4 linked regions of the Homo sapiens genome follow. The protein of the gene in region 4 binds, or shares a complex with, the protein of the main gene of each other region. Each region holds a gene or a part of one and is shown on either strand. Other genes may lie near its edges.

Evidence for each region.
Region 1: the proteins of H3-7 (region 4) and TRIM33 are in contact, whole or in part, in a crystal structure (PDB 5MR8), measured with the Homo sapiens proteins. Residues at the interface, in NP_001342338.1 of Homo sapiens: Ala2, Arg3, Thr4, Lys5, Gln6, Thr7, Ala8, Arg9, Lys10; in NP_056990.3 of Homo sapiens: Asn886, Glu887, Asp888, Trp889, Cys893, Asn895, Gly896, Gly897, Asp898, Leu899, Leu900, Cys901, Cys902, Glu903, Cys905, Val908, His910, Phe921, Pro922, Ser923, Gly924, Asp925.
Region 2: the proteins of H3-7 (region 4) and SPIN1 are in contact, whole or in part, in a crystal structure (PDB 4H75), measured with the Homo sapiens proteins. Residues at the interface, in NP_001342338.1 of Homo sapiens: Ala2, Arg3, Thr4, Lys5, Gln6, Arg9; in NP_006708.2 of Homo sapiens: Gly93, Phe94, Asp95, Cys96, Tyr98, His139, Met140, Phe141, Glu142, Thr143, Lys148, Asp149, Trp151, Tyr170, Asp173, Val175, Tyr177, Tyr179, Gln180, Leu181, Asp183, Asp184, Asp189, His252.
Region 3: the proteins of H3-7 (region 4) and ING4 are in contact, whole or in part, in a crystal structure (PDB 2VNF), measured with the Homo sapiens proteins. Residues at the interface, in NP_001342338.1 of Homo sapiens: Ala2, Arg3, Thr4, Lys5, Gln6, Thr7; in NP_001121054.1 of Homo sapiens: Tyr198, Ser205, Tyr206, Gly207, Glu208, Met209, Ile210, Gly211, Cys212, Asp213, Trp221, Phe224, Lys232, Pro233, Arg234, Gly235, Trp237.

Annotation. Positions count from the first base shown.
Region 1 is NC_000001.11:114,508,204-114,515,597, forward strand, and holds the start of TRIM33 (E3 ubiquitin-protein ligase TRIM33), read right to left. Parts: upstream 3,001-7,394; 5' UTR 2,874-3,000; coding exon 2,348-2,873; intron 1-2,347. UniProt on the Homo sapiens protein: Acts as an E3 ubiquitin-protein ligase. Promotes SMAD4 ubiquitination, nuclear exclusion and degradation via the ubiquitin proteasome pathway. According to PubMed:16751102, does not promote a decrease in the level of endogenous SMAD4.
Region 2 is NC_000009.12:88,383,998-88,391,469, forward strand, and holds the start of SPIN1 (spindlin-1), read left to right. Parts: upstream 1-4,446; 5' UTR 4,447-4,541; intron 4,542-5,114; exon of another isoform or gene 5,115-5,202; intron 5,203-7,472. UniProt on the Homo sapiens protein: Chromatin reader that specifically recognizes and binds histone H3 both trimethylated at 'Lys-4' and 'Lys-9' (H3K4me3K9me3) and is involved in piRNA-mediated retrotransposon silencing during spermatogenesis.
Region 3 is NC_000012.12:6,660,104-6,667,631, forward strand, and holds the start of ING4 (inhibitor of growth protein 4), read right to left. Parts: upstream 3,017-7,528; 5' UTR 2,999-3,016; coding exon 2,962-2,998; exon of another isoform or gene 2,945-2,961; intron 1-2,944.
Region 4 is NC_000001.11:143,904,993-143,909,944, forward strand, and holds H3-7 (histone H3-7), read right to left. Parts: upstream 986-4,952; 5' UTR 975-985; coding exon 564-974; 3' UTR 518-563; downstream 1-517. UniProt on the Homo sapiens protein: Core component of nucleosome. Nucleosomes wrap and compact DNA into chromatin, limiting DNA accessibility to the cellular machineries which require DNA as a template.

The sequences.
Region 1 (7,394 bases), about 29 Mb from region 4:
GACAGCATTTGGTTAGTCCCTTCCACTTACTCCCCCTCCTTCAAAAAGAAAGGATAAAGAAATGAAGAGGGGATTTACATATTATTCTCTCTCCTTCATAAATTTCAGAGAGCCAATTTCATAACCTCAGTCCCTCAGCCACATCAGTCAAACACAATCTGTATTTCTGGGTTCCCTCTAAATCTCTTACCTAACCCAGGTTCCCACAAGAACACTGAATCCTATGTGTCTTACTATGGTCATGGGTGCACAGACCACCAGCAGTTATTCTCTGAACACCTACTAACAATTAGTAGCTTCTCCAACAACCAAAGCCTTACTCTTAACATTCTTACCTACATGTACCAATAATGCTAGAAACCCAAAACATCCCAATCTGAAAACATTTTATCCTCCCTACACCCCAGCCCTCACCCTCACCCCAGCCCTGCTTCAGTGTCTGAATATGTATTAATAGCATTGCCATCCACCAAACAAAAAATGTGGAATTCTACGTTTGTCTCCCTCACACCAATCTCAATACACTCCCCCCATCCCTCCATTCCCATAGCCACTATTAGTTACTACTATTAATATACTAGCTACCATTTCATTAGTAACTACCACGTACTAATCACTTTACACATTTTATCTTACTTCATTCTCTCAATAACCCTATGAGGTTATATACTTTTTTCCCATTTCACAAATGAGAAAACTGAAGCTAAGAAAAGGTCATCTGCCCAAGTCGTAAGTAGGAGATGGCAAAGTAGATTTCCAAACCCTACCGTTCCCCCAAACCAAAATGCTTCATTCTGTAATACCTGATATATCATTCCTTTACTACCCATTCCAAATGTTGATTTCTTTCCTAGATAACCGCCAGGATTCTCCTAACTGGTCTCCTTGTCTCCAGCCTTGCCTTCCCTCATCCCTCAAGTGCCCTAAGTGATCTTTCTGGATCAGAAATCTGATCCTTTTATCCTCTTGATATGAAAGCCCTCCAGGAACATCCTTCAGTCCACAATGTCGAGGATACACTCTACAGGATGAATTCCAAGCCCTTTAGTGCAGCTCCACAATCGCTTACCTACAGTCCCGAAATTCAAAAGCTTTGAAATTTTAATTTTTTTCATTGGTTTGCAACAGAACCCACTGTGAATGCTGGGAGGTTATTTATCGTCTATCCCATTAGCGTGACATTCACGTGTTTCAATGTAGAAACATTAACGTGTTTGATAGAGTTAACTCAGACCCTGATAAAAGTCTCACATAACAGACCTTGCCAGAAAAAAGAAAAATCCCAAAATATTCTGAAGTCCTTACACCTGGATCCCAAGAGTTTAAGAGACTGTGAAACCTTTATCTTTTCAGCCCATCAATCCAATCTAATTTCCACCAATCACCCTACACAGTCTTTAGTTCCAGGGATGTAGAAGGGTGTCCTGTGCCCTGAATACCCTCCAACCCAGTGAGGTACTCATTCTTCAAGAAACCTGTTCATGGATTTCCTTTCCTGTGAAATTTCCCTGACCTTTCCTCTATTGTGCCACAACCATTGTACTGAGGACTCACCTCCACTGCTGCAAGTTATATGTTTCTCCTGTTAGACTGTGAATGAAGTCTTCATTGAGTACTTTATTCAATCCTAGCACAGTGCCCCAACACTAGGGGCTCATTAACGGCCAATTAGCTAAAACAAATTCATGCCCAGCTTTCCCTAACTCTCAATTTCCTTCAAAGTTCATTTCTCCTTCATCCCCAAACCTTAGGATTTTCCCTAACCATGCAGTCCACTTTCCGAGTTTCTCTTTCCCCATGTCATCTTACAATTTTCTTCCAGGCGCCTTCTCTGGACCCCTTGCTCTCCAACATATTCTCTCCACCTCCATTTAATCCATAGTCCTCCTCTCTCCTATCTGTGAACACGCCAAGTCCCCTCCCTCCAAAGCAATCCATCTTCACTGCCCTTACCTCTTACCTACTCCCTCAACACCTCGCTGGCCCGGGCCCTTTCAGCCAAAACGCTTCCTCACAACGTGTTTCCCAAATCCCCCTTCTCTCACTGTACGGGTCTGCCAGCTCCAGAACCAGCGCTCGGCCGGGTTCCGCACATCACAAACCCTCCCTCGGAGCCAGTGTCCCCTCCCCCAGCCTCTCGCAGCCGGCACCCCTCCCTTCATGCTCCCCTTATCTCTTGCGGTCCAGCTTCTCTGGAAAGTGTCCCAGGGGCGAGTCTTTCACCTTAGAGACCCCTCGGGATGGCGCCCGTCCGAGCAGCCCCAGGCCCCAGCACCTCCGTCCCCAGCTCCTCTAGGGTTGCGCAAATCCCTTGCGGCCCAGATGCCAGGCAGGGCCTCCGGCTCACCTTGCTGGATGTCGCCGTTGCTGCCCCCCGGGATGGGCACGCTGAGCTGGCGCTCCGGCTCGGGCAGGCAGCGCAGGCAGAAGGAGTGAAGACAGGGCAGCAGCTTGGGCTCCGCCTCACGCCGGCTCTGCAAGCTCTGCTGACACACGGCGCAGGTGTCCAGGAGCGAGGCTGGCGGTCCAGGAGGCGGCCCTGCCGAGGGACCCGGAGCGGGAGCCGAGGCTGGAGCTGGAGCCGGCGTCGATACTGCGCCCCCGGCAACTCCAGTGCCCACTGAGGCCGCAGGAGATGAAGCAGCCTGGGCCGAGCCCGAGGAGGCCGCGGCCACCCCCCCGTCGTCGGGCCCGGCCGCGCCGCCCTCAGCGCCGGCCCTGCCGCCTTCCTCCTCCTCCTCCTCCACCAGCACCGCGGTGAGAGGCGGCTCCGCCTCCTGCGCGGCGGGCCCGGCGGCCCCGGCAGTTACCGGCGCGCTGCCGCTGCCCCCGCCGCCGCTCTCAGCCTCGCCGCCGCCTTTGTTTTCCGCCATGTTTTCCTCTTTGAACCCGCCGGACCGCCCCGCGCCGCCCGCCGCCCGCGTCGCCGCCGCCGCCGCCCCCAGCCCCAGCCGCAGCCGCAGCAAGAGCGGCAGCCGAGAGCTAGCGAGAGAGCGAACCAACGAGAGCGCGCGCGCACGCGGCGCCCCCGCCCTCGCGTCGCGCGTTTGAAGGAGGGCGGTTGCGGCACGCGCACGTACGCACGGACGTCCTCCCGAGGGAGGCGGGAACTCGGTTCGCGGGCGCGGAGCGGTCCCGGACCCTCGAAGCCAGTTCCTTGCGTCAGTGCCGCGGCTCTTTAACCCGAAGGGAGATTTTTTTTTTAAAGCCAGAGGCCGTTGACGCTGGGTAGCCTTTGGCTGGGGTTGGTTATGAACTCCGACACAGCGGTGGTGCATACGGAAGGGTGGTAGCCGGGACGGTTCCGGTCCCTGCGAGCGTGTCCCGGGCGTCTCCGCGGAAGTTTCACCTGCCGCGCCGCTCGATCGCCGGGACCTCCTGGGTCTCTGCTGTGCGTAGACCAGCCGCGTTCCTTTGGGTGGCCGTGGAGCACTAAAGCGGGGCTTATTGTTTGTTTGGTTTTGGTTTTTTTTTTTGTTTTTTTTTTGCTTTTTGTTTTTGAACTGAGGATCTATCAGAAATAGGCTGAAAAGACCGAGTGAGGAAGAAACTCTTTAACAGCTATTTTTGGCATCTTAAGGTGATTCTCAGGAGTTGCTACGTATCAGAATCAACGGAGGAGTTTTTCAAAGCAGAGATGCCAGGGCCAGTCCCCAGACCTGAATCAGGAAGTGAGGGAGAGAGCCGACGGAGGGGGAAAAGTCCCTTCAGCTGATTCTTATGTATGTCAGTTTGGAGAGCCACGGATATAACCAATACTGCGTCCTTCTGAGGTCCCACTTTAAGTGTCCTGGGTTGAGCTGGGTGACAAATGCCCTTACAACAATGGTAGTAGAAGCTTTCAGGCCAAGCGCAGTGGCTCACGCCTGTAATCCCAGCACTTTGGGAGGCCGAGGCGGGCAGATCACTTGAGGTCAGGTCAGGAGTTCGTGGGCAGCCTGGCCAATATGGTGAAACCCCGTCTCTACTAAAAATATAAAAATTAGCCGGGTGTAATGGCGTGCGCCTGTAATCCGAGCTACTCAGGAGGCTGAGGCAGGAGAATGGCTTGAACCCGGCAGGAGGCGGAGGCTGCAGTGAGCCGAGATAGCGCCACTACACTCCAGCCTGGGCGACAGAGCGAAACTCCGTCTCAAAAAAAAAAGAAAAGCTTTCAGAAAGTTGCCTTTTTATTTGAAAAAAAAAAAAAGGTATTTGGAGGATTTTATGTAGTGCAACAACTGTTTTAGTGTTAAGATCATGAAATGCTTTGGTCTCCTGTTAGTGTTCCCAAGAAAGGTGCTGTAAGTCCTTAAACCACGTGAAAACTTTTTTTTTTTTTGAGACCTCCTCGTTCTGTCGCCCTGGCTGGAGTGCAGTGGCGTCATCACATTTCATTGCAGCCTCGACTTCCCAGGCTCAAGCCGTGCTCCTCGCAATTACCTGGGACCGTAGATGCACGCCACCATGACTTAGCTGATCTTTTTTTTCCCTTTGCCTCGAAGAGGCTGGGGTCTCACCATGTTGCCCAGGCTGAAACTCCTGGGCCCGAGCGATTGGCCCGCCTCAGCCGCTGGAAATGCTAGCATTACAGGCATGAGCCACTGCGCCCAGCCTCCTGAAAACTTTTTAAAATTTATTCAAAAATGTTTCCTGACCTCTTTATTGTCATAGTGTTTTAGAGATACACTGGGATTACAAAACAGAGGAGCTCCCTGCATTCAAGGGGTTTACAATCTAATAGAGAAAAAGATTGAGAATAGATACATGCCAGGGAGTGGTAAGTGCTGTGAAGAAAAGAATAAGTGGGGTAAAAGGGGTTAGAGGTGATTGAAGAAGGCCCCTGTTGATCAGATGAAGGAACCTGTCTTGGAGAAGAGCAGGAGAGGAACACATAACAAGTGCAAAGGGCCTGAGGGAAACGGATTCTTGGCTTGTTAGAGGAGGAGTCAGTGTGGCTGGAGTGGCTTGAACAAGGGAGAGAATAGTAGGACATGAGATAAGAGAGTTATTAAGGGAGCCAGGTCATGTACAGAAATGGTCTTCAATTTTTTTTTTAACTTTTGTGCCCTTTGAAAGAATTTTGGAAGGCTGTTTTCTTTCCTCAAACATTGTAAGTTGACTAAATTTTTTCAGAAGTTTAAATAGTTGCAGAGTTTAATTTGTGACATTCTGTAATACTGACATTTAAAAATTATTTTTAATCTAATAGGGAAGTAAACACTAAAGTGGCTTAATACTATCCATTTTTTAAAGTATATTAAAATGTTATATTTTTTAAACATGGAAAAGTATTGGGAATGTTTTAATGATATGGCTGGGAGTCTTCCCCCTTCCCCTAATTATTTCGAGTAGGCATGAATGCATATAACATTGCTAGAATGAGATAAGGTCCTGTATCAACTCCATTTTTCATTGCCACAGTCTTTACTGCATTAAAAACTATATATGTATACATGTATGTATCTACACACTCACATATATGATGGAGTAATTCCCTTAAAACTACCCTTACTTTTTTATGTACCCCTTGGAAAATTTTCCTTCACTGAAGTACCCCAGGAGTACTCATACCCTAGCCTTAGGACCACTGAGTCAGATAGGAAGGCTTGGATGGGTTTTGAGCAAAGACTCAAAGCAGAATTGTGAAAAGAGTCACTGTGGCTGCTTCCTAGAGGAATCACCTGTAAATGGTCAGTGGAATAAGGAAGACCAGTTAAGGGGCTAATAGGGTAATAACTCGGTTGGTTGGATCAGGTTAGAATCTGTAAAGGTGGTGAAAAATATGGAGTATAAATCATAAACACTTCTTCTCAAATTCACTTCAAAAAAATAAGCTAATGAACTGAATTTCTCAACCAAAAGTTTTGCTTCCATGAGTTTTCTTAACCTTTTGATGCCTGCTACATTTGCCTTTATTAAAATCTAGAATAAAAGTGTTGTTTTTGAAAACTATATAATTTGTATAGGATGGAAACAGCCCCCATGAAGTTCACTGTGTGCTCTGAGAAGGCAGTGCCTGGAGTATAACTCATGAAATATTTAGGATCATTGAAACAGACCCAGTTACATCCTTGATTTTCTGTGGGAGCCCAGAAATCTTGCAGGAGAAACTATGAAATAAGTCCACAGATGAGGCTGAGATACGATAATGCACAAACCTGTCTAATAGACTGCATAGCATGGGGTTCATTATGCCCTGGGACAAAATGCTTGGTTTGAATCTGGTTCCATCACCTACTAGCTATGTGATTTAGGGAAACTTACTTAGGTTGCCTCAGTTCCCTCAGTCATGAAAGGGTGTTTGCTACGGGTAGGACCTACCTCAAGGTTGCCTCACAAACAATATTTGTAAAACGTTAATAACAGCACCCAGCACATGGTGAACATGGATGTTAAAGTAGACCCAAAGTTCCCTGAAGGAAACAGAACTGGCAGGAGAAACACATGCCACTGAGAGAAAATTTCAAGAAGAGGAATCATGCTGTGGCCCAAACTGAGCAGCAGGTAGAGGTAGAGGCTGTGTCCAGCCATTTTCCTGACCTAGGCTACTATCCCTTGTTCCTCTGGTTTGAGCATTATCAGAAAAAACCAGTTCTGAAATAAAGGAAAGAGCTCTTAGGAGGTTCATAGCAGTTCTGCTATGAAGAAAACTCCTCTAAGTTGCTGGTAAACAATAGTGGAAGGAGTTTTCCAGTTGTCTAGGAAAGAGAAAGGGCATTGGAGGTGAGTGACCCAGGTAGGTAAGCAATGGTGAGAACACGATGTGTCCATCATCTGGGCACAGGAGGTTGGCAAAAGCAAGGCAGTAGCCCAAGGGTAGCGTGAAGATTTGCAAAGGCTGGTCTGCACCTTCTGGACAGAGCAGCCATGCTGAACAGCAGGAACAGAAGAGTACATGAGAACCGGCAGAAGGATGCTGAGCTGCAGCTGAAATCTGGGATATTTCTGTAAATGTACAATACTTGCACTCACCAATGGGTGAGGCCAGAGGATCTAAAGGTGACATTTTATCTTTTAAAGTTCACTTCTCAACTGGGTGTGGTGCCTTACACCTGTAATACCAGCACTTTGGAGGAAAACAGGAGGATCACTGGAGGCCAGTAGTTCAAGACCAGCCTGGGCGACATAGCAAGACCCCCATCTCTACAAAAAAAATTTATTAATACAAATTTTAAAAATAATGTAAAGTTTAGTTCTCATCATTCCATGGTGTACCAAGTACACTTTGACTTCTAGGTACTCTGTTGTCTGAGTGAGAACTATTAGTACCAAGAAAAGCAGGACAGATAGCAGAGTTCTGAGTCTAATTACTATCTATTGGCTTTTCTGTGTCTCTAAGGCCTTTCAGGGGCACGTTGTAATTCTAGTAATAAACACCACATTTGAACAGCAGTTTACAGTTGACAAAGTGC
Region 2 (7,472 bases), on a different chromosome or scaffold from region 4:
TAACCACCCCTCATGCCTTTGGTATCTCTTCCTTCTTCCACTCCAAATCACAAGCATATTCATCCTTGGGGCAGAAATCCTCCCAAGTAGGAGCCCAGGAACCCAGAGTTAAAAGACATATACATCTAGTATAGGCCAAGGCTTTTATTTATTTATTTATTTTTGAGACGGAGTTTCGCTCTTATTGCCCAGGCTGGAGTGCAACGGCGCGATCTCGGCTCACTGCAACCTCTGCCTCCCAGGTTCAAGCGATTCTTCTGTCTCAGCCTCCCGAGTAGCTGGGATTACAGGCGCCTGCCACCAAGCCCGGCTAATTTTTTTGTATTTTTAGTAGAGAAGGGGTTTCACCGTGTTGGTCAGGCTGGTCTCGAACTCCTGACCTCAGGTGATCTGCCCACCTCTGCCTCTCAAAGTGTTGGGATTATAGGCATGAGCCACCGCGCCCAGCCGGCCAAGGTTTTTAACATGCCAATTTGTATTTAATAAGCTTGCTATAGGAGGAAAAATATATGTAGAACCTTTGATCCAATCTCTAGAAGTTGAGTATGGTTGAGAAACTGCAAAGAAATTAACTATATGCCAGGGTTGGTGGTGCATGCTTGTAGCCCCAGCTATTCAGGAAGCCAAGGTGAAGGATGGACAGTTCAAGCCAGGCCTGGGCGAAATAGCAAGACTCCTTCTCCAAAATATAACAAAAGCAAAATAAAAGAAATTTGCTATATAGGTAAGTTTCTCAAAACATTTCATTAGCAAGTTGGAGGACAGCAGGAGCTGCCTGGCAAGTTGAATCAATGGTCTTAGTATCCTAGAAATTCATAAATTAACTTGAATTCTATTTTTCCAATTTTTTATTTTGAAAAGTTCGTTTTCCAGAAAAGTTGAAAAAACTGCACAATAACACACCTAGACTCATCACTTAGATCCACCAACTATTAACAGTTTGTTACATTTGCTTTACCTCCATATAAAATACATCAGTCTCTGAGGCATTTATATGTCAGTTGTAGCCATCAGGTCTCTTGTCTAATGATTCAGCACTAACATCCTAAGAACTAGGGCATTCTTGTAAATAGCCACTGTCACACTGAAAAATCTAATGATGATACAATAATACTGTCTAATATATAGTCCATATATAACTACAAAGTTCCCCAGTTGTCCCTCAAATCTCTCTCACAGCTTTTTTGCCTTCAATGCAGTGCTGCATCAGGGGTCACTTAATGGACCAACCCAGTTGTGTTATCTGTCTGGACCAATTCCCTAGCTTGACTTTTTTTAGAGTGTAGTGCAGGGAAATTGTTTTGCTGAATGTCTTCCAACCTGGATTTTTCTTATTTTTTTTTCCAACTTTGATTAGATTCACTTAAACATTTTTGGCAGCTATACATGGGTAATATAAAAACCCATTTGTGACATTCTAATGAGCTAATTAGCAAGGCCTTAGATGCAGCTGAGATATGTACCACTCTAGAGTGTGACCTTTACTGATATAGGGCTGGGTGACATTACTGGACTGTGCATTCTTTTATTTTTAATTTTTTTTTTTTGAGATGGAGTCTCACTCTTGTTGTCCAGGCTGGAGTGCAGTGGTGCAATCTCGGCTCACTGTAACCCCTGCCTCCTGGGTTCAAGCGATTCTCCTGCCTCAGCCTCCTAAATAGCTCGGATTACTGGTGCCTGCCACCACGGCTGGCTAATTTTTATATTTTTAGTAGAAATGGGGTTTCACCACGTTGGCCAGGCTGGTCTAGAACTCCTGACCTCAAGTGATCTGCCTGCCTCGGCCTCCCAAAGTGCTGGGATTACAGGCGTGAGCCATTGCAGCTGGCCGGCCTTTGTTTCATTTTAAAAAATTTTATTTATTTATTGTACAGTTGGGGTCTTGCTATGTTGCCCAGGCTGGTCCTGAACTCCTGGGCTCAAGCCATCCTACCACCTTGGCCTCCCAAAGTGCCGGTATTACAGGCATGAGCCACAATCCTGTGTATTTTTTTTTGAGATGGAGTTTGACTCCGTCACCCAGGCTGGAGTGCAGTGGCACAGTCTCGACTCACTGCAAACCCTGCCTCCTGGGTTCAAGCGATTCTCCTGCCTCAGTCTCTGGAGCAGCTGGGATTACAGGCGTGCACCACCACGCCTCGCTAATTTTTGTATTTTTAGCAGAGATGGGGTTTCACTGTGTTGGCCAGGCTGGTCTCAAACTCCTGACCTCAAGTGATCCACTTGCCTCGGCCTCCCAAAGTGCTGGGATTACAGGTGAGAGCCACTGTTCTTGGCCTTTTTAAAATTTTTTAAAATTTTATTTATTTTAGAGTTGGGGTCTTGCTATGTTGCCCAGGCTGGTCTCAAACTCCTGGGCTCAAGCCATCCTCCAGCCTCAGCCTCCCAAAGTGTTGGGATTACAGGTGTAAACCACAGTCCTGTGTATTCTCAATAGCTCCCAATGAGATCATCACCAGTGGCAAATTTTAAATCAGGGGTTGGGGATGGAGATGAAGGTGGGGCCACATATTTGACTTTGAAGACGTTTTCCGTGAATTTTGGAGGAGTGTGTGTGCTACTGGCATCTAGTGGGTGGAGGCCAGGGATGCTGTCAAACATCCTACAAAGCATGGAACAGACCCCACATGAAAGGATTATCCCATCCCAAAAGCCAACACTGCTGAGGTGGAGAAACCCAGGGATCTCGCCAATGAGATGAAATCTTCCAACCAGCAGACTTCTTGGCACCTACCTTCTTCCCATCCCTCTTTGTTTCGGAGATGACCCCACTGCAAGACATTAAACAGGCCAGGCGCGGTGGCTCACGCCTGTAATCCTAGCACTTCAGGAGGCCGAGGCCAGCGGATTGCTGGAGGCCAGGAGTTTGAGACCGGCCTGGCCAACATGGCGAAACCCCGTCTCTACTAAAAATATTTTTAAAAATTAGCTGGACATGGTGGTGCGCGCCTGTAATCCCAGCTACTCGGGAGGCTGAAATGTGAGGATTGCTTGAACCCAGGAAGCGGAGGTTGCAGTGGGCCGAGATCATGCCACTGCACTGCAGCCTGGGGAACAGAGTGAGACTCCGTCTAAAAAAACAAAAAAGACATTAAACACACAAATGAAAGTGAGTAATTTCTCAACACTTGGTAACTTGTAAGTACAGCGATACACTTTTATATCTCAGTTTTGAAATTAGCTCTCTAGTTGGCCTGTGAACGTCCCATGCCTGCCAAGTGTGTCATCTGAGACAAGCACTTCAATTTGTTTGAGCAGGCATCTATCAATCTTATTTGTTAGAAAAGGTGCCAGTGAAACCCCAAAGAGTATTGCTAACTAATAACTGTGCTGCAGTTTAGAGTGTTCAAGGTGCTTTCCAGTAACATGTTCTGGAATTTGATCTGACAACGCTTTGGGAGGCGGTTTATTACGATGAGGCTGCGCTGTCGCACTCGAGGAACCAGGTCAGTGACCTGCTCCAGGACACGGGACTGGCGGGGAGGGGAGAGCGCCTGGACTCAGCCTCCAAGTCTCGCACTCGACTCTGCAGGAGTAAAAACTATTCTTGATCCTACCTCTCTCCCTTCTGCAAACAAGCAACAAAATGCTGAAAAGGCATCTTAACTGAAACGGAAGTCAAATGAATTCGCGTGCGATCATGGGAATTTTTGGCTCCTAACCTTGCGAGTAGAGCTGGGTGAGTTCCATTTGTGGTGGGGGAGTGGAAACAGGTTTCTGGGCTTGCAGAAGCCACATCCCGTCCCCACACAACCTAGGACAGGCCAGGTACTTGTAGGTGAGGCTCCGGGGCTCCAGCTAACCTGAGCTACCTGGGCTGGGCTTTGTGCGGGGAGGCAGCAAGCGGGGTGAGCCGGCGACGACGCCGGCCTCTACGCAGTGCGGTGGTGAAGACGTCTCTTCCAGGGAGTCACAGGAAGCAAATCCATCCTTTTAAAGGGCTCGCGTCCCGCGGCCCTGAACCGGCGCGCTGGAGCAGTAATGCGACGTTCTCCGAGGTTCAAGGCTCACGGCCCAGCCCTGTGATCCAGTTTCCTCAGTCTTCGCGGTGTGCACCACTCAGGACGACTTGCGGCTTACGTCCAGGACAAAGGGGGCTTGTCCTTTCTTCAACGTCCTACTGCGCAAAAACGAAGCCCTTCTCAGGCTGCCTGCCTTCCAGGAAAAGCTGCGCCCCCTCAGGAACCTGTGCCCCGCGCGCCTGCCGCCGCCCATTCCCGGCGCGCACCTGGCAGTCCCGGGCTCGAGCCCCGCCCTGCCGCCAGCCAGGTGAGAGGGGCCAGGCCCCGCCCTCGCCGGCCCCGCCCCGCCCCACTGCGCCTGCGCAGTCGGCCGTCGGCGCCAGGCGCCGGGGCGGCGCGGCCGTCGCAGTTCGGCGGGCGCAGTGCGCGTGCGCCCTGACTGTTGGGGGGCGGGCGGCGTCCGCGGCGAGGGAGCGGGGGCGGGGAGGCGCCGTCTGGCTCAGGCTGGGGCCGGCGGGAGCGCGAACGAGCGACGGCGGAACCCGTGGGCCTGTGGACTGCAGCCTCGGCGGTCAGCAGGTGAGGCCCGCGCAGGGCGGGCGTGGGTCGTGAGGGAGTGCGGGCTGCGGGCGGGCCAGCGGTGCGGCGGTCTGCCCGGGGGCGCAGGTGAGCGCGGCCCGCGCGGGGCCCGGCGGAGCATTGTCCAGCGGGCGGCGCCCGCATAGCGCCCCCTGCCGGCTGGGCCGCGGCGGGGACCCGGGCTGGGCGGGCCTGGGCCTCGGGGCGGGCGCGCGCTCCTTTGTTCGCCGGCCCCTACTCCTCCGTGCCCCCATCCCCGCCGCCCCCCGCCAACATGGCCGCCACCCTCTCGTCCCCAGTTCCCCGGCCGCCGCCGGCCCCTTAGCGCGCGCTTTGTTTGGAGCCGGGCGGGGAGGCCGGCGGGCAGGGGGCGGCGGCGCTGCGCAGTCGGGCGCGGGGAGGGGGCGCTGCGCCAGAATGCAGGCGGGGAGGGGGAACGTTGCATAATCCCGGGCCGGCGACGGGGGCGGGGCGGGGGGAGGGGCGGGACCCCGGCGCGACGGGTCGGGTCACCCCGGGGACGCGGGCCTGCCCTGGGGCCACCCCTCCCAGGCCCGGGGGATGGCCGCGGACCTTGTAAGTTGCAGGCTCCGCGGTTCGCGGCGCCGGAACGCCCACCGGCCAGTCCTCGCGCCCGCGCAGCCCCTTTCCTGATGCGCCGTCTCTTCGCCGCCCTCCGTGGGGGCGCGGCGAACGGGTTGCGTGCTCTGGAGAGAGACAGGCACTTTTCCTCTCCATCGTGAGTGACCTTGGGTGTATTCGTCAAGGAATGTGTTGAAACGAATTGTGCGATGCGGGAACTGCGCAGCGCCTCGGGTTTGGCTTTCTCGAGCATTTTATTGCATTGATTGTGCGTTCTCGATTTTACAGAGGTTCGTTTTGAGTAATGGCTTCAGTAATGTCATCGTATACGCATTTCAAAGTTTGTTTATGGAATTGTTTTTACATTTATTCTCTTTTTACTTATAATTTTTGAATCAGATTTTGTGTTTTGGAGAGATTTTCCGTACGTGGTGGAAGTGTTTTCACTCATGGTAAATATGGATTGTTTGGCAATTTTATCACGTTAATCACAAAACAATACCAGGAACATTTAAATGTCTTAAAGGATTTCACTCTACATGACTTGTGCCAGAGACGACACACGTACCAAAACGCGATTACCTGTCTTAACTTTTTTTCTATTGGAATTTTCTGGAAGGAATTCCATGCAATCCGAAAGGATTAATGGAGGGTACAGTAATTGCTTTCTACATCGCTTTTGTTAAGCAGTGAAAATTAAACTTGGAGATTTATACCTGGATATACTGAGTTTTTTTTAACACTCTTTTGAAGTGAAATTTTGGAAAGGGCAGGTGAAATGAGGCTTCTTCCAACCTCCCCACTCTCCCCCCTCAGCTTTAGTTAAAAGGCAAACACCAAAATATTGTAGTACCTGGTAATTTACAGAACGTTCGTTATCAGATTTGATAATTATATATTAAGGTTGTAAAGAATGTGTATGCCAGAATTATAGGTAGTAGATCCTAGATTCTTAGGAAAAATAGTTTCTTTATAATCTTTTGAGTAGTGAAATGGTTACTTTTACAATGGTTATGAACTGGGTCAAGGCAAAAGGGCCACTATATGTCTTCAGTCATCTTTCTATGCCTGAAATCCAGGAAACAGTGAAAATGGATGTTCCCTGGAACAGCCATTGCGATGCCATATGTTGGTCATTGGTGTCCTTAAAGTGTATCTCAGATAATTGTGTGTCTCCCTTACTTGTGAACTGAGGGGTCACAATATTGATGTGCCTGATGTGTGCCCCTCTGCATTTCGTGGGTAGTGTCTCAAATTTGGCTATCATATTGATGAGAGTTACTAATTTGGTTTTAGCTGCCAGAGGTTTAGGTGGTTTTCACTTCCAGTGACTTACCTGATTGCACATAGTTACAACGTTACTGGTTGCACTCCTTCATTGCTAGCATCTTTTTTCTAGTATATTCGATATACATTCTTTTGGTTTATCCTTTAAAATATTTGCTGAGATAGCATTTAAATGTTAATGCTGTATTTATATTTGTTGGATGCTTAATTCAATGTGTCTTCTTTCCCTTTCCATGAATGAAAAGAAATTGGAAGAAGAGAATCAACTATTTCGTGCAAGTATTTTGTTCAGTTTAGAAGATGTTATGGTATTGTGAAAACAATATTCTGGAGTTAGACATGGAATCACAATGGCCTTCCAAGTCAGAACAGTCTGGGTTGAAATTGACTCCTTACTGGTCCAAAGCCACATAACTGATTCATCATGCAGCCTTTTTTTAAAAAAAGTTTTTTTTTAAAGCTACTCAAATATGTCAGTTTTATTTTCTCTGTACACACATTTGTTACTGAAAATTGCAAAAACAGCACATTGAAGGTCCTCTTATTGGAGTTCACATTTTTGAAAACCAGAAAATTTAATAATTATGCTCTTGCCAAACTACCCACTGTTTTCTTTATATTCTTGCCCCACAAGTTGCTTTACTTGAACTCTTGGGTTGGGCTTCATCTCACTGACTTCAGGCTTCTAACACACATAGGACACTTAGGACCTACTGGCTCTTTGGGTCACATCAGGGAGGAGAGCTGAAGTATGTTGAAGTTACTCAAATACATTCAAGCTACATAGATCTCTGATAAATTATTGGTGGTATGGTAGAAATGAAAATATACCCAAAAAAATCACAGAACTGTTTATTAAAATTATTGGTATACAGGCTCTTCTAACATAGATTAGCTTTCTCAACCTAATACATAAAATTACCAGCAAGAAAAAAAAAGTACAAGAATGACAGTTTATGGTTGAATTGGCTTGGTGTCATGATTCCCTGTTGTAGCATTCTCAGGCTATCTATGATAACAGAAACTGCAGCCACATTTGAATGGTTCCCTTCTTGATTCATT
Region 3 (7,528 bases), on a different chromosome or scaffold from region 4:
TGAATATTTGTCACCCCAGTACAAGAGAAATCTCTTGCCAAGACTCCACCTAAAACTTTAAAAATGCCTCTACTTGCTGGGCACAGTGGCTCACGCCTGTAATCCCAGCATTCTGGGAGGCCAAGGCAGGTAGATCGCTTGATCTCAGGAGTCTGAGACCAGCCTGGGCAATATGGCCAGATCCTGTCTCTATAAAAATTAAATATATATATAAAAAATAAAAGGCCTGGTACGGTGGCTCATGCCTGTAATCCCAGCACTCTGGGAGGCCAAGGTGGGTGGATCACCTGAGGTTGGGAGTTTGAGACCAGCCTGGCCAACACAGTGAAACCTCATCTCTACTAAAAATACAAAAATTAGCTGGGTATGGTGGCGGGCACTGTAATCCTAGCTACTCAAGAGGCTGAGGCAGGAGAATCACTTGAACCCGGGAGGCAGAGGTTGCAGTGGGCCAAGATCGCACCATTGCGCTCCAGCCTGGGTGACAGAGTGAGACTCTGTCTCAAAAACAAACAAACAAACAGAAAAACTAAAATAAAATAAATAAAAAAAAATAAAATGCCTCTACTGTTTAAACCTACAACTTCAGGTCTGCTACCACCAGTTCACAAGACTGAGTCACTGGTGATTTACCAAATCTAATGGTGTTATTAAGCCTATCCTAAAAAATATCTCTGCAGCAGTTGGCATGATCTTTTCTCCGCTGAGTAACTTTCTTTTCTTTTCTTTTGAGGTGTAGTGTCGCTCTTGTCGCCCAGGCTGGAGTGCAATGGCGCAATCTCAGGTTCAAGGAATTCTTGTGCCTCAGCCTCCCAAGTAGCTGGGATTACAGGCGTCTGCCACCACGCCCAGCTAATTTTTGTATTTTTAGTAGAGACGGGGTTTCACTATGTTAGCCAGGCTGGTCTTGGAACTCCTGACCTAAGGCGATCCACCCATCTCAGCCTCCCAATGTGCTAGGATTATAGGCGTGAGCCACCGCTCCCAGCCTTTTTGTTTTTGTTTTTTTTTTGAGGCGGAGTCTCACTCTGTTGCCCAGGCTGGAGTGCAGTGGCATGATCTCGGCCCACTGCAACCTCCACCTCCCAGGTTCAAGCGATTCTCCTGCCTTAGCCTCCTAAGTAGCTGGGACTACAGGGGCACACCACCACACCTGGCTATTTTTTTTATTTTTAGTAGAGACGGGGTTTCACCATGTTAGCCAGGCTGGTCTCGATCTCCTGACCTCATGATCCGCCTGCCTCAGCCTCCCAAAGTGTTGGGATTACAGGCATGAGCCACCGTGCCTGGCCACCAGCCTTTGTTTTTTTTTTTTTTTTTTTTTTTGAGAGGGACACGGAGTCTTTCTCTGTCACCCAGGCTGGAGTGCAGTGGTATGTATGATCTTAGCTCACTGCAATCTTCACCTGCTGGGTTCAAGTGATTCTCCTGACTCAGCCTCCCAAGTAGCTGGGATTACAGTCACATGCCACCATGCCCAGCTAATTTTTTTTTTTTTTTAAAGTAGAGACTGGGCTTCACCATGTTGGACAGGGTGATCTCAAACTCCTGACCTCAAGTGATCTGCCCGCCTTGGCCTCCCAAAGTGCTGAGATTACAGGCATGAGCTACTGTGCCCAGCCTGTCTACCTCACTTTCTAAGCAGGAAGAAGCCACCTTAGATTCTTCCTTCTCTCTCAACCACTCAGTCATTCAGTCAGTCCTTTCATATTTAACTCCTAAATACTTCTGTAACTCCCTAAAATCAGGTTCTTATCTCTGTCCTGGAATGTTATCACTAATTGATCTCTGTTATCAACAATATCATGCTCCAATTTACCATATATTAGTCATTTTCCTCTATAAAAATCATACTCTACTTTAAAATGCAAACTTCTTCGTTTGGCTTAAAAGACCTTGTCCAATCTAGCCTCAGCCTCTTTCTCCAGTCTCCTTTCTCAATTTCTTACCTTAGATTCATAAATATCAAATACGCTGACCTCTGAGTCATAAATATCAAACACCCTTGACCTTGCCACAAACCCATCACAGTACCTTTGCGGATGCTTTCCCCAACCTGGAATTCCTTTTTTCTCTCCTCACTGGCAAATAACCTTCAAGACCCTATTCAAACATCACCTCCGCTGTAAAGCTTTTCCTACATCCCCAGGTAATTACCCCCCTTTTCTCCAGGGTTGCCTACCAAGTGTCCTTTTTAATGTATTTCCATTATCTCACTTGTCACAGTGTTTTATAATTATTTGCAGAATCTGTTTCCTACTAGATCGTGAGCTTCTTGAGGGCAGGAGCCTTGTCTTACTCATTTTTCTATCCCTAGTGCCTGCCATTATGTCTGACCCATAGCAGGACCTCAATAAATATTTGTTGAATAAATGACTCCGGGCCCTAAAACAAATGTAAGCGCACAGAGCAATAGGCTTTCTGCAGGGGTGGTTTACATAAATCGCATAAACACCAGATTTTCATTTGATGGGAATTAGATCTTTACTCCATGAAGAGAAGCGTTCTAGTTCATCATCTGACAGTGGTCACTCATCACCACCACTCTCAACCCCATGAGAAGCCACTTTTGAGGAAGAATGGAGTGGAGGAGAGGTCTTTACCGCTTCTCCAAATGGCAGTGTGTGATAACGATTCTGAACGACTATGGGGAAAAAAATCTACCGAGGCTGGAGACCCTGGAGAATGGGGGCAGCAACTATCTTCCTGGCCATGCACACTAGCCCTTCAAGACACGTCTCTAACCCCCACACCGCACCCCTCCCTCGTCTACACCCATCAGCGGGGCCTCGATCCTGCTGCCCCGCCCCCTCTTTCTCCGCACCCTCCAATATTTCCTGCCACAGAACCGCTTCATAATTGTGACCTTCTCGTCACTGGAACTTAAGGGCTACAGATCCTCTCATCCCTGATCCCCGCACCACTCTGCAGCCCCGACCCCCACCTCCAGCCTGCTCTTACTGTCCAGATAATGTTCCAAATACATCCCCGCAGCCATCTCGAAGCAAAACAAAGCAACTTCCGATCCGCCCCGGAAGTGACTGTAACGCGACAGGGGCCGAAGCCATTTTGCGGCTAAAGCCTTTCCGCCCTTAAAAGGAGAACTTCCGCCCTTAAAAGGAGAACTTCCGCCCTTAAAGGAGAACTTCCGCCCTTACTATATTACCGCCGGTACACATCCGCCCGACACTGAAACTTTTCCTTTTGCATGGTAGCCACGACCGCCCACAGTGAGGCGGCTGTAGCCCGCTTCCGCCCTTACAGACACCCCAGGACGCGACCGAGACAGGTATGACGTCACTGGAGGTCGCCATTTTGCATTCTCTAGCAAACTTTTTTCCCTCCAAAACGGGAATGTATGGTAATCCGTGCAGGGGTAACTGTTCACTTTAGGCTCATATTGCGTAAACATACCTTCTCAGCAACTGGAAGATCCAACTTTTTTTCCCTCTTTTGCAGAATGACTTTTTTCAAGCCAGTTAGTTTCTTAAGGAAGTTGGGGAAGAGTATCAGGCCTTGAGACATTTAAACCGTCTGAATTTCTATTCACTCACACAAACACCATCTCCCCCAGCATTATTTTTTTAACTTGAGAAAGATGATCACCTTTCTACTTATAAATACAAAGAATGACTCATAATAAAGCTATAATTCTGCACATCTTTTGTCAGAGCTCCTGTACGTTACACTAGAATACACTTTCACATATAAAATATTACTTCCTGCCTTGCCCTCTTGCTTTTTTTTTTTTTTTTTTGAGACAGAATTTTCACTCTTATTGCCCAGGCTGGAGTGCAATGGCGTGATCATGGCTCACCGCAACCTCCACCTCCCGGGTTCAAGTGATTCTTCTGTCTCAGCCTCCCGTGTAGCTGGGATTACAGGTATGCACCATCACGCCAGACTAATTTTGTATTTTTAGTAGAGATGGGGTTTCTCCATGTCGGTGAGGCTGGTCTCGAACTTCCGACCTCAGGTGATCTGCCCACCTCAGCCTCTCAAAGTGCTGGGATTACAGGTGCGAACCACTGTGCCTGGCCCCTCTTGCTACTCTCTAAGGGGGAAATCTCGTGTTTTTGTTTTCCTTTTGTTTATATGTGATGTTAGCATCATAATTCTGAAGGGATTGAGGGATGCAGCAGTATCACTACTGGGCTAGTTGGCTAGTTAGTTGCTAGCCATCACTCTAGTCAGCTATGGTAGAGTGATTTCTATGGTTTTCATCAGAATGGGAAGCAGTCAAGGGTATGAGAGGCTGCCAACACACTAGGCTGTCAACACACTGCCAACACAAAGGCCATAACCTAATAGTGGTGTTAGTAAGATAGTATTTTAGAGATAGCTGCCACCCCTCACACTTTTCGTACCCTCACACATCCTTCATAAGAATTACCAATGTCTTACGGCAAGTTTTTAAAGAGACAGACTTTCAGCTATATAATTTCTACCAAATATGTGGAGAAGAGGAACTTCCAACCCGGGGCGGATTGGAAGTTGCTTTGTTTTGCTTCGAGATGGATGCAGGGATGTATTTGAAACATTATCTGGACAGTAAGAGCAGGCTGGAGGAGGGGGTTCAGGGGCTGTAGAGTGGTGGGGGTATCAGAGCTGAAAGGATCTGTAGCCTGTAAACCCCAGGTTTACTAGTGTGCAGGTAGTAAGATACAGCAATAGAATCCGGGAAACTGCTCTAATTACAAAAGTCATGCTTTTCGGTAACTTGATCTCTGTGCCTGTTTTACTATACAATGAGACTACTACCTCCCTCATAGGGTTGTTGGAATAAGTGAGTGTGAGTGTATCCATAAAAAGAGTAGATTCTAGTTCTAATACTGGTGATGAAGTTAGGGCCATTAGGGCCTTTTCAAGAGTTGGTGAGAGTGGGAGGAAAAAGCAGTAAATATGCAGGGAGCTAAGAAACATTGGCATATTTGGTCATATGTGATACATTCATTGGTATTACACAACATATTGAGACACCATCTTAGGTGCCCACACAGGATATCTAGCACTAAATTAAGTGGGCTTTATTTATCCCAGCCCAACTACATAACAAGTACTATTGGCCAGCAGTCCCAGAGTTCTCAGGATGTGGGAGCTTGGTCACAACTTTCACAACTTTTTCGGTGCTTAAAGCAAGGTTTTTTTTTTTTTGTTTTTTTTTTTTTTTCCAGACAGAATCTCGCTCTGTGGCCCAGGCTGGAGTGCAGTGGTGCAATCCCGGCTCACTGCAACCTCCGCCTCCCAGGTTCAAGTCATTCTTCTGCCTCAGCCTGCAGCTGGGACTACAGGCGCGTGCCACCACACCTGGCTAATTTTTGTATTTTTATTTTACTTTTTTGAGAGAGAGTCTCACTCTGTCGCCCAGGCTGGAGTGCCATGGCACGATCTTGGCTCACTGCAACCTCTGCCTCCTAGGTTCAAAAGATTCTCCTGCCTCAGCCTCCTGAGTAGCTGGGATTGCAGGCGCCCACCACTATGCCTAGCTTATTTTTTGTATTTTCAGTAGAGACGGGGTTTCACCATACTGGCCAGGCTGGTCTCGAGCTCCTAACCTCATGATTCACCTGTCTCGGCCTCCCAAAGTGCTGGGATTACAGGCGTGAGCCACCGTGCACGGCCATCAATTTTTGTATTTTTAGTAGAGATGGGGTTTCACCATGTTGGCCAGGCTGGTCTTGAACTCCTGACGTCAAGTAGTCTGCCTGCCTCGCCCTCCCAAAATGCTGGGATTACAGGCGTGAGCCACCGCACCCAGCCTTAAAGCAAGTTACTTAATTCTCAAAAAAGGTATCTTCAGAGTTATCTAGTCCAATCCCTTCACTAACAGTTGAAGAAGCACCCTGGCCAACACTGGTTGATGGTAGGCAAAGGGCTGAAGTCCAGGTTTCATGACCACATTCTACTCCATAGTACTACAGCTCTCCTGCATAAATCAATCTTGCACCCCTTAACCGGTTATGATTTCCACAAGGTAACAAATACACATATGTATACACATTGCCAACTGCAAGCCCCTCTTCCACAGACTCAGGCAGGAGTGTAGGTCCTTTCAAGAGGCTTCCATTTTTCTTCCATAGGGAGCTTAGCTGTTTTGTTAACACATAACCAAAGCCTTGCTCTCACATATTTAGGCAATGCAATCCCCATGACAGAATGTGTATGTAGAAGTCCTCATAAACCAGGATTTCACTGGAGACATCATGAAACTGTACCCTTCCATGACTGGAGAATTGCACAAATGGGGCATCATCACACAAGCACTTGTTCATCACACACACACTCTGGTATAAATCCTCAGTACTGTTCTTGGACATCTCCCCAAATACCTTTTCCGCATGCTCGCTCACATCAGTAGCTCCACTGCCTCTGATCCTTTTACATGAATTTATTTCTATACAATGTTCTAAAAACACCCCTTGGTTTGTACATAAGTTTTTTTCTTTTTTTCTTCATTTTTAAATTACTTTATAACAACTGGTTTCCTGATTTTTTTTTTAATTTCCTTTCCTCTGAAATCTGCCATGATTTAAAAAAAAAAAAAAAAGACAAAAAGAAAAATGCTGTGGCTAGAGGACAGGGGTGGAGAGAGGGAAAAAAAGGACAAAAATAAACAAAACATCAAATATGAAAATTCTCAGAGATAATGCATTTATAAACACAGAAATGGTTACAACAAAGATGGCCGTGATGAGTGAGTATAATATATTTATATATATATATTTATATATAAATCCGTGTCCGGCATCTGACTGTGGCACCTAGGGAGCTAAGTCCAGTCCTTGCGTTTGCCTTGAACTCTCCCTTCTCCGCAACACCCCTGTTTTGGAGTTTCACAGATAACACAAAGCCTCCCACAGCTCCTTGGGGGTGGGTTGGGGAGACTGAGAGTATAGGGTCTTTGTAGGCAGAGAAGGAGAGAGGCTTCAAGGAAATCCGTAAAACCATAACACACACTTCTAAGCCACCTGTGACCAACTTGGGAATTTCTGGCCCCTTGGGGACCACATCTCAGCCCTTGCCCCCTTCAAATAAAAGGAGGTCTAGCCCCTACCCCAAATCTCCTTCTACCAGCAGTCAATAGGAAGCAAAGTGAGACGATGTAGGGGAAGAAATGGCTCTCAGGGACTGAGGCATTTGAGAAACCTCTGTTCTTTTGCAGGCAAGAATAGAACAAGAGGCTGGTTGCATTTGGGGCTCCCTTTTCTCTGTTATCTGGGAGGGCCAGCCTCTAGTCTTACATCAGCCCAAACTTTGAGGATAAGGAGGGTAAGGATAGGGTAAGTGGCCACACTGGACAAGGTTCTATGAGGTCATAGCAAATCCTTCCCTTGAGCACCGACCCCCAGTTTTAGAAGCTTTGCTTGGGAGGGGAGGCTGCTGGATGACACCATCAGCTCAGTATTCCTTTGCAATCAGGAGGGCTGATGTTCCTTTTGAAGAAGAGTTCAGAAAAAGGATGGTATCCTGTGAAGGAAAGCCGTGACAGAGGCCCAAGGAGATGGAGCCAAGGCCTGTCAAGGAAGAA
Region 4 (4,952 bases):
TTTTTATTCTATACTTTGTGGAAATTTTTTTCTCTTCCTTGAAATACTACCTCACCCACACATTTTTAAAAATCGCCAGATATTTACTCCCGCCCGCTTAAATTACTATTCTGGCTTGGACACCGCCTGTAGTATGCAATGAGGAAGATGCTGAGCTTTAATTAAGCTTATAGTTCCTAAATAAACCAGGAAACGAGTTTATAATTTTTAAGGGACTCGCCCCACCCTTACACTCAGGATCTTCCACATCTAGAAACTCCCCATAGTCTCTTGCCCCCATGCAAAACTTTACCCACAGAATTGGGAGCCGGACCTCTAGCCTTAAACCAGCGTGAAAAGGCTCGGCCGGAACCACAAGGACCATGCCTCTGCGGCTTTCTCTACTGCCGGCCAACTCACGGCTGGGCTTTGGGTTCTGTAACGTCACCCACCACGAGTGCCCCTGGCCCCTGACCGCTGCGCAAGGCAGACGCACATCAGATGGAGAGCCGGTACAGCTGCTCTTGATGAAAACGGCAGTGGCTCTGAAAAGAGCCTTTAGATCGACCACTTAAAAATATACCTTAGGCCCGCTCCCCGCGGATGCGGCTGACCAACTGGATGTCCTTGGGCATGATGGTCACGCGCTTGGCATGGATGGCGCACAGGTTCGTGTCTTCGAACAGCCCCACCAGGTAGGCCTCTCTGGCCTCCTGCAGCGCCATCACGGCCGAGCTCTGGAAGCGCAGGTCCGTCTTAAACTCCTGCGCGATCTCGCGTACCAGCCGCTGGAAGGGCAGCTTGCGGATCAGCAGCTCCGTAGACTTCTGATAGCGCCGGATCTCCCGCAGAGCCACGGTGCCGGGCCGGTAGCGGTGCGGCTTCTTCACCCCGCCCGTGGCCGGCGCGCTCTTGCGGGCCGCTTTGGTAGCCAGCTGCTTCCTCGGGGCCTTGCCGCCGGTCGACTTGCGGGCAGTCTGCTTAGTACGGGCCATGCTGTCTCATTGATACGAGAGGGTCTAGGCAGTCGTATTTATAGACATAGCCTCCTCTTGATTGGGCCTGAAAAGGAAATTTTCAAACTTGTGATCTCATTGGTTAAAATTCAGTCCTCTTTACTGGGGCGGAAGATTGTTCTGCTAATCTTTCTTCCCTTATTATTTCCCCCTTTCCTGATTTTTTTCTGTAATTTTATCGATCACGGATTGCTTTTGAAGACTTTCCTTTAAATTAGTCTAACTTTTGTAAAAGCAATGTATAAAGTGTTTTGCATCCCATTTTAACAGAGATTTTTTTTTTTCCCCGAATTCAAGCATGCCCTTCTATGAGCTATCAGCCTGTTTCAGGTTACCTGTTACTGAAGCTCTTCTACCATAGCTAACATTTATTTCATGTCTAGCATTTTGCTCAGCAAGTTAGATGCATTGTATACCATGAATGACCGAAGCTTAGCAAAAAAATATGTAATTGAAGGAATGAAAAAATTGATCTTATTTACTTGACCTTGGAACCCAGCCAAAGCCATTTCATGTGGGTAGTGTGCTGACCTATATTGACCTGATATTAGAGCCTCTGCCTTCCTTTAGTCTTTTCTCCCTGCGATGTGGTTCCTTCTTCCTCACCCTCACATCAATGGCCAATTAGGTCCTGCAGATGTTAAGCTTCTAAATCAAAGAAGGACAACACCAGAAATTCATTTCTCCTTTACAATGTAGAATAGTTTGTAAATTAGTGCTAATTAGCCAGATTACAAGTTAAAGTTTCAAAGCAAATTATTCATCAATTGCTGACTTGCTAACATTTTATTCAATAAAGTATTTTATAATGCTTAAAAGTTTAATATTTTTTTCTGTTCTCTATGAAGAGAGTAAAGATGCTTTGCTTTTTCAATTTCATGTGCTTTGAAGTATGTATTGTTCAGAACAGTAAATATAGTGGTTATGTAGAAGCAACTGATACTTAAAAGTTGTAGTAGTTAATATAAAACTTTTAATCATATGCTTATTTTACTAAAAAAATCATTACAAACTATAAAAACTCAAACCTGAGAAAAGCAGGCCCGAAACGCTTAAAACTTACTTTGATGGTGTCATTATGAACTATCTTCCTACTGAAGTCAAAGTAAAGTAAAAGTGATTTCAAGGGGACTTCCTGAACACTAAACACAAAGTAGAAATCTGTGAGCTTAATTAATATCTTCAAGAGTCTCTCATGGGCAGAAGCATCCTCCTCTCGAGAGATCTAAAATGTACAAAAGTGTAACTGATGTGAACAAATGTTATCCCTCTCTGTGGTAGTTTTGTAATAATGCCTTACAGACAGCAGGCACTACTCAGTGTTTAAAGTTCTTCTACATACACTTTATCATTTAATCCCTACTCTGTGAAATAGATCTTACTCTTCTCACTTTACAGATAAGAAAACTGAGTCTCAGAGAAATTATGGCTTGTCCTGGGTAAGTAACAAAGCCTGTGTAATATTCTAAAGCAAAAGAATGAAACGGTAATGATGAAACTTTCTATTTCATTAGGCTTAGAGGATACCTTTTTTTTTTTTCATTTGAGATGGAGTCTCACTCTGTCACCCAGGCTGGAGTGCAGTGGTAGGATCTCTGCTCACTGCAGCCTCCGCCTCCTGTGTTCAAGCAATTCTCCTGTCTCAGCCTCCTGAGCAGCTGGGACTATAGGCGCAAGCCACCACCCCCAGCTAATTTATTTATTTATTTGTATTTTTAGTAGAGACAGGTTTTCACCATATTGGTCAGGCTGGTCTCGAACTCCTGACCTCAGGTGATCCACCCTCCTCGGCCTCCCAAAGTGCTTGGGTTACAGGCATGAGCCCCACACACCCAGCCAACACAGTTTAAAGCACAAAAGCGTTTTCCCATCATGCAATCACATCATCTAGTATTTCTCAAACATCTACACCCAACTATTCCCATTAGAAGGGAAAACTACCCCATGGAATCTGGATGATAGCCCAAAGCAGCCCACCCAAGCATCACTTTTCTTTGCAATATACTTTCTCTATGATGTATGCAGTCTTGACCATAATGTAGGATGTGTTCATTTAAATAAGAAAATGGCATTCAATCAGACTTTAATGGCTATAGGTATCATTTCTCAGAATAAAACAATCAGATGTATAGTTGCCTTAAAAGTCATCTTTAATAACAGAATTCAGATCAATTGTTAGTTCAATTTCACCTAGTCCCCACATTGGACACTAGAGTGACATTTCTGTGAAAGGTCTCAATCCACCACTATATCAGAAGCAGCTTTATGGTGCAAAAGAAGCTCTGCTTTTCTTCAGTTGTAACAAAGACGGAATATTCCTCCTAAAATTTTTGAAGTGTCCTTCAGCAGAAATTATAAGGCTGTGCAGCTTGAATACTGAGAACAGAAATTTCATTAGGTAGCACGGGGGAATAGACAAGAGAAGATTAAAATTTACCTAACAAGAAATAAGCAGGCAAAAGAAAATATTAATAAATGAATTATTAGGCACATAATGTTTTGTATGTACATGTGTTTACTTTTAATACAAAAGTAACGGACTAAGTTAACATAGATGTTCCAATAAGATAATTTATGTTTCATTTTTTGGCTTCAAGTATCCTCAGGGTTATAAGTATCATAAGCTGAGACCGGCTGAATTGGTTTGTGGGTTGATGAAGCCCTATGCCTGATTTGAATTTCTCTTGAATGGTCTGCAGCCCTGGACCAAGTTGAAGAAGCCATGAGAGTCTCAGCTTTTTTCCTTACCCCATTATGAGATAAACTCATTCCTTAAATATCTTGCTCATTTGATAAAACTTGGCACCCTTCTCCTTTCTACTGGTCCCTGATACTTACTACCTGTACTGTAAGCTCAAATTTTTTACAATTTCTGCCTTTATTATGTAACGTATTCCACTGGAATATGTGTTACAGGAAAGGGGTCCCGATCCAGACCCCTAGAGAGGGTTCTTGGATATCCGGCAAGAAGGAATTCAGGGCCAGTCCATAAAGTGAAAACAAGTTTACTAGGAAAGTAGAGGAATAAAAGAATGACTACTCCATAGAGAGAACAGCCCTGAGGGCTGCTGGTTGCCCATTTTTATGGTTATTTCTTGATTATATGTTAAACAGGGGTGGGGGAGGTGGACCACGCCTATAATCCCAGCTACTCCAGAGGCTGAGACAAGATCATTTGAACCCGGGAGGCAGAGGTTGCAGTGAGCTGACATCGCTCCACTGCACTCCAGCCTGGACCACAGAGGGAGAATCCGTCCCCCGCACCCCACCCCCCCAAAAAAAATCACTGCCAGTAAGGAACAAACAGCCAAGACGAAGAAGTACTAAGATGTAAAGAGATGTAAAATAGGCCGGGCGCGGTGGCTCACGCCTGTAATCCCAGCTCTTTGGGAGGCCTAGGCCGGGAGATCACGAGGTCAGAAGATAGAGACGATCCTGGCTAACACGGTGAAACCCCGTCTCCACTGAAAATATTTTTTTAAAAAAAATTAGCCGGGCGTGGTGGCGGGCGCCTGTAGTCCCAGCTACTCGGGAGGCTGAGGCAGGAGAATGGCATTAACCTGGGAGGCGGAGCTTCAAGTGAGCCCAGGTCGCGCCACTGCACTCCAGCCTGGGTGACAGTACGAGACTCTGCCTCAAAAAGAAAGAAAGATGTAAAATACTGTGATACATTCTGCAAGAGTTATGACAGAGTCAGAAAGGGGCAAGCGTGTTTCTTCTCTACCCTGAAGCAGCCAAGGGAGAAGAAGGTATCTGTTGCCAACGCTGGGGTGTTACAAGTGCACACTGTCATGCCCGGCTAATTTTTTGGATTTTAGTAGAGACAAGGTTTCACTGTGTTGCCCAGGCTGGTCTCGAACTCCTGAGCTCAGGCAATCCACCCGCCTAGGCCTCGCAAAGTGCTAGGATTACAGGCGTGAGCCACCACGCCCGGCCTATATATGCATATTTTTTTCT